Linked DNA regions of Homo sapiens: region 2 is linked to region 1. The links come from fine-mapping of genetic effects on gene expression. A gene starts in region 1. The other region holds a variant in brackets. All regions are shown on one strand. Distances are from middle to middle.

Region 1 (2,906 bases):
ACAGGACTTTGGGGACTCTTTGAGGACCTTGGTCAGGAGAAGGGTAGAATTAGTTCTGTGCTTTGGAAGGTCCTCTGATGACAATTGATACTAGCGATGATGGTGCCGATGATCAGAAAGAGGAAAAGGAGGAAGAAGCAGAGAATAGTTCATATTTACTAAGCTTTCATGATGGGGGCTCTGCCCCAGTGTTTATTCCTAGTAGCCCATTTAGTTCTCCCCACAAGCTGATGAGGTGCGTATGCTGTCATCCTCCTTTTTCAGACAAAGCACAGAGCGGTGAGGTCTCTTGCCTAAGGTCATATAGTTGGTAAGTAGCAGAGCCAGGTAGTCTGGGTCCAGGACCCACAGCACTGGTGATGGGGGAGGGGAAATGGTGAGGGGGGGTCTGGGAGACGTGAGTCTTCCCTCAATCTTTCACCGTAGGAGATTGTCTGGTTTTAAAAGAGAAGATGTGTCCACATCTAACCCCGATCTGAGCACTAATGCAATGTCTTTCTCCACTGTTCTCAGAAAGGCTGGTTTTTCTTAATAAACTTGTCAGGCAGGGAAGGAGGGCAGAGGCACTCAAGGGCCGGCTCAGGTGGCTTGGCTGCATGCCCTGGCTCCAGACTCCACTGCCATGTTCCCGTTCCCTGCTTGGCCAGCATAAAGTTGACCCCACTGTGAGGACCAGCAGACCTCACAAGAATGACCCCATCCACGCCTACTGGGGCTCCACCTGCCCATGACTCACCACACCCAAGCCTCTGAGCCCAGTGGACTTGCAAAAGAGAAAATAAAGCACACACATAAAGAATAACCAACCCCATGCATTTCCTGGCATCGGGTGACTGTTTGGTTAAGAGCTTCCTCCTCTTTTGTATGCCCACTGGATACTCCTAACATCCCCTAGCTGCTGACCACAGAGCTGGCTTAGGTGGCTGATCACAAGCTCAGCCCCTGGGCGGGCCCCCCACCCCAGCCACCAGGGAAGCATGGAAGGAGGCCAGCCGCTGGGATCTGCCAGCTCTGGGCCCCAGCGGCCACCCTCTGCAGCTCAAAGTCACCTTTGCTCCTCTCCTCTCCTCGGCTGGCCAGCCAGAACCAGCCCAGAACTCCCTCCCCTCCGCTCAGCAGGACCCAGGAACTGGTCCCTACTGGGCAATTATTAATCAGATTCTTGACATTCCTCAGCCCCAGGTTGGCTGGAGAAGCATGTTCCCCAGAGGAGCAGAGGCCCAGGACTGGCATTTGGATATGCAGCTGACCGGCAAGGTGGTGCTGTCAGCCGCTGCCCTGCTCCTGGTGACTGTGGCCTACAGGCTGTACAAGTCGAGGCCTGCCCCAGCCCAGCGGTGGGGTGGGAATGGCCAGGCAGAAGCCAAGGAGGAAGCAGAGGGCTCAGGGCAGCCTGCTGTACAGGAGGCTTCTCCTGGGGTGCTCCTGAGGGGGCCAAGACGTCGGAGGAGCAGCAAGCGGGCTGAAGCACCACAGGGCTGCAGCTGTGAGAATCCAAGAGGCCCCTATGTCCTGGTCACGGGGGCCACTTCCACAGACAGGAAGCCCCAGAGAAAAGGCTCAGGTGAGGAGCGGGGCGGGCAGGGCTCGGACTCTGAGCAGGTGCCTCCTTGCTGCCCCAGCCAGGAAACCAGAACAGCTGTTGGCAGTAACCCTGACCCTCCCCATTTCCCCCGCTTGGGCAGCGAACCGAAGAGCTCCCCAGCTGGACTCATTGCAGCAGCCGACGGCAGCTGTGCCGGTGGTGAGCCTTCTCCATGGCAGGACAGTAAACCCCGTGAGCATCCAGGACTGGGGCAACTAGAACCTCCCCACTGTCACTACGTGGCTCCCTTGCAAGGCAGCAGTGACATGAACCAGAGCTGGGTCTTCACCCGTGTGATAGGGGTCAGCAGAGAAGAGGCTGGGGCTCTCGAGGCTGCCTCCGATGTTGACCTGACCCTGCATCAGCAGGAGGGCGCCCCCAACTCCTCCTATACCTTCTCATCCATAGCCCGCGTCCGAATGGAGGAGCATTTCATACAGAAGGCGGAGGGGGTTGAGCCCCGGCTCAAGGGCAAGGTGTACGACTACTATGTGGAATCTACCTCTCAGGCCATCTTCCAGGGCAGGCTGGCTCCCAGGACAGCAGCCCTGACTGAGGTTCCATCCCCTAGGCCACCGCCAGGGTCCCTGGGAACAGGGGCTGCCTCGGGAGGCCAAGCCGGTGACACAAAGGGTGCAGCCGAAAGAGCCGCCTCCCCGCAGACAGGGCCGTGGCCCTCCACCCGAGGCTTCAGCCGGAAGGAGAGCCTTCTGCAGATAGCGGAGAACCCAGAGCTGCAGCTGCAGCCAGATGGCTTCCGGCTCCCCGCTCCACCCTGCCCAGACCCGGGCGCCCTGCCTGGCTTAGGCAGAAGCAGCCGGGAGCCCCATGTGCAGCCGGTGGCCGGGACCAATTTCTTCCATATCCCGCTCACCCCTGCTTCAGCCCCACAGGTCCGCCTGGATCTGGGCAATTGCTATGAGGTGCTGACCTTGGCCAAGAGGCAGAACCTGGAGGCCCTGAAAGAGGCGGCCTACAAGGTGATGAGCGAAAACTACCTGCAGGTGCTGCGCAGCCCGGACATCTACGGGTGCCTGAGCGGGGCAGAGCGCGAGCTGATCCTGCAGCGCCGGCTCCGGGGCCGCCAGTACCTGGTGGTGGCTGACGTGTGCCCCAAGGAAGACTCCGGCGGCCTCTGTTGCTATGACGATGAGCAGGATGTCTGGCGCCCGCTGGCTCGCATGCCCCCCGAGGCCGTGTCCCGGGGCTGTGCCATCTGCAGTCTCTTCAATTATCTCTTCGTGGTGTCCGGCTGCCAGGGGCCCGGGCACCAGCCCTCCAGCCGCGTCTTCTGCTACAACCCGCTCACGGGGATCTGGAG
Region 2 (2,906 bases), 35 kb before region 1:
GTATGATCAGGGCTCTGGCTCAATTTCTTTGTGGTTATCTCAGCTCTGTCTTTCTCCAAGTGTTAGATTTATCCTCAGACTGGCTGCTCTTATGAGCACACGTCAGCCACCAGGAGCAACTGGAGTAAGAGGCTTCACTGTTCCCATCCAGTAGGAGAGAAAAAGACCCTACCACCACCACCTGCCCCAGACAAGACGATTGGCCACCCACTTGGAATGCCATACACCGATTGGCTTAAGTCTGGACTCCTAGCCAATCACTGGCAATCCTGACCATGCTTGAGGACTCTAACTAGGATCATCCATCCTAGCCCTGGGGATAGATCCTGCTTCCCATATATGTAAATGGCTTCATCAGGGAGGGGCGAATGCTTGAGCAAGACAGGAGTCCCCTTAGGAAGAAGGAATGGGGAGTGAGTGTCGCAAAGGTGCCCTACAAAATTATTATCCCCATTTTACAGATGAGGGAGCCTCTGCCCAGAAAGGTTGGGTTATATGCCTGATATCGTTTGGATCTGTGTCCCCGCCCAAATCTCATGTCGAATTGTAATCCCCAACGTTGAGGGATGGGGCCTGGTGGGAGGTGCTTGGATCATGGGGGTGGATTTCCGCCTTTGGTGCTGTCCTCATGATAGACTTCTCACAAGATCTGGTTGTTTAAAAGTGTGTAGCATGCCCCCCAACCCCCCAGCAACTTTCTTCCTTCTACTCCAGCCATGTAAGACGTGTCGGCTTTCCCTTCACCTTCCACCATGATTGAAATTTTTCCCGAGGCCTCCCCAGAAGCCATCAAGCTTTCTGTAAAGCCTACAGAACCATGAGCCAATTAAGCCTCTTTTTTTTTTTTTTATAAATTACCCAGTCTGAGTTATTTCTTTATAGCAGTGCAAGAATGAACTAATACAGTGCCCAAACTCGGAGTTCTTCTGCAAGGAAATCTAGATTTGAACCCAGACCTCCCTGACTCCAGGGCTTGTAGTGGCCAGGTTCGAAGCTCTCCAAGCCTGCTTGGATCAGCGTGCCCCTACTGGGGAATGGCCAAGGGGCATGCTGGGGAATGGCCAAGTCTGGTTTCCCAGTGATGCTGAATCACTAGAGGGGTCCAGTGGGGGTGGGATTAAGATTCCACCTCATCCTCCCAGGTTTTTTTTTTTTTAAATCCTCCCCAGTCCTGAAGGTCTGGTCTTGGTCCCCAGGTCCAGGGAACATCCACAGTCAACCCAGTCTTGAGGGTGTTCCCGCCTCTACGTTCCTAAGCTGCAGTCCCCTGACGTGGGATTCATCTCTGGGAGTAAACTCCCCATCCCCTGCCTCCCTAAGACTGCCACCTGTGTAAGGTAGAACCCACTGGGATCCACCACAGCCTCCCTACTCACCACACTCCTCCTTGCACCTTCTGTTCCAGCACGGCTCCCTCTCTCTCACCTCCGTGATTTTGCATGGGCTGACCATTCCCTCTGCTTGATACACTATATCCCTGCTTCTCTTCTTTCTCTCCCCATTGCTCACCTCTTCATCATTGTCCCTCACTTCTTAGCTTATGACCCTACAAGTCACCTCCCCCTGCTTCAGTTTTCTTATCTGAGAAGCAGAATTAATAATAGAATTTTTGTGGAAAATAAATGAGAAAATGCACGTAACATGCTTAGAACCCTGTTTGGCATGTAGTCAAGTGTTTATGAAAAGTTTGCTATTATGATGATTATTATCTATCTCATCCTTTAGGTCTGAGTTTACACATCACTTCCTCCAGGAAGCCCTCTCTGAATA[T/C]CTCTCCCAAGTCAAAGTTATTTGCCCTGCTCTGTGCTCATACACATCCTGTGTAGGACAAGAGGCTATCACTTGTCACACCAAAGTAATCATTTACTCATCCCTGGCAGCAGAGATGACAGTGTCTGTCTGGTTTACCCTTATGTTCTAGGTGCCTAACACATTGCCTGCCACACTGTCACGAATAAATAGACACTTATGGGTAAGAAAATCAATGAACAACTGAAGTAGCAATAAGTCTCTGTACACCTGAGTCATTGGGCCACCAGTAGTTTCTCAACAGTGATGACAAGGATTTTCATCTGCTCTGAGAACTTCCTTTCCCTCCCTGCCCCCTGGTGAACACCAGCCCAGAGTTTAGCATTCAAGCCGTGATTAGTGCTTTCTCTTCTCCCCAGCCTGCCTTTCAGAACAGATGCCTCTCCCTCCCAATCAGTCCCCTCTACTGCTGCACCTGGTGTTTCATCAAAGGACCCTGATTTCCCTCCCGCCGCCCAAATCCATCAGACACATTTTGGCTGCCAATAGGGGCTGACCCTCCCCACCAAGGCCAGGCCCTACCCTGGCAGGGAAGCAAAACCTGGGCTCCGTGGCCCCACCACTCCTGTCCCTTCTGAAACCATGTGCACTGTTCACAGATACAGATAATCCATGCAGGCAAATGGGAAACCAGGCAAAGATAATCCAAAACCAGCCGAGGATCCAGAAGTCATTTCTATTTGGCTTTGAAGTGCATTCAGTTAAACTTATTTTTCCCCTACTATAGATTTAACTTCTTAATCCTCTTTTACTTCAGCTAATATTGAAATGAGTTTGCCTGCCCTATGCACACACTGTGTGTGTGTGTGTGTGTGTGTATGGTGGGGGTTGGGGGACCCCAGGATGCACCTAATGATTGCAAGCAATGCAATCAGAGATTTGAAGCTGGTCAATGCAAGGAGCCAGGCCTGCTGGAATCCAAGGACCTGGGGTGCAGCAACCCCAGATACAGACCCTGAAGAGGCCAACAGCGGTCAGCAGGTCAGCCAGGCCTCTGCCCTGCTGTCTGACACGGGAGGCCCTCTGGCTGCACAGCAGTCCAGCCTCCAAAGAAACAAAGGGCGGCCCCTCTCCACCACCCCCAACACATACGCATG

Evidence for each region.
Region 2: its variant is fine-mapped to the expression of KLHDC7A in whole blood (TOPMed, PIP above 0.99).

What each region holds. Positions count from the first base shown.
Region 1 is chr1:18,479,785-18,482,690 of GRCh38, forward strand. It overlaps KLHDC7A (kelch domain containing 7A), which reads left to right and starts at 1,146. Exons shown (of 1, transcript NM_152375.3): 1 at 1,146-2,906. The coding sequence starts at 1,198. RefSeq lists enhancers at 224-1,096, 1,097-1,968.
Region 2 is chr1:18,444,707-18,447,612 of GRCh38, forward strand. No RefSeq gene overlaps it. Among named protein-coding and RNA genes, the nearest start is that of KLHDC7A, 35 kb to the right of the region's middle. The variant T/C (reference allele first, on the strand shown) is at 1,771.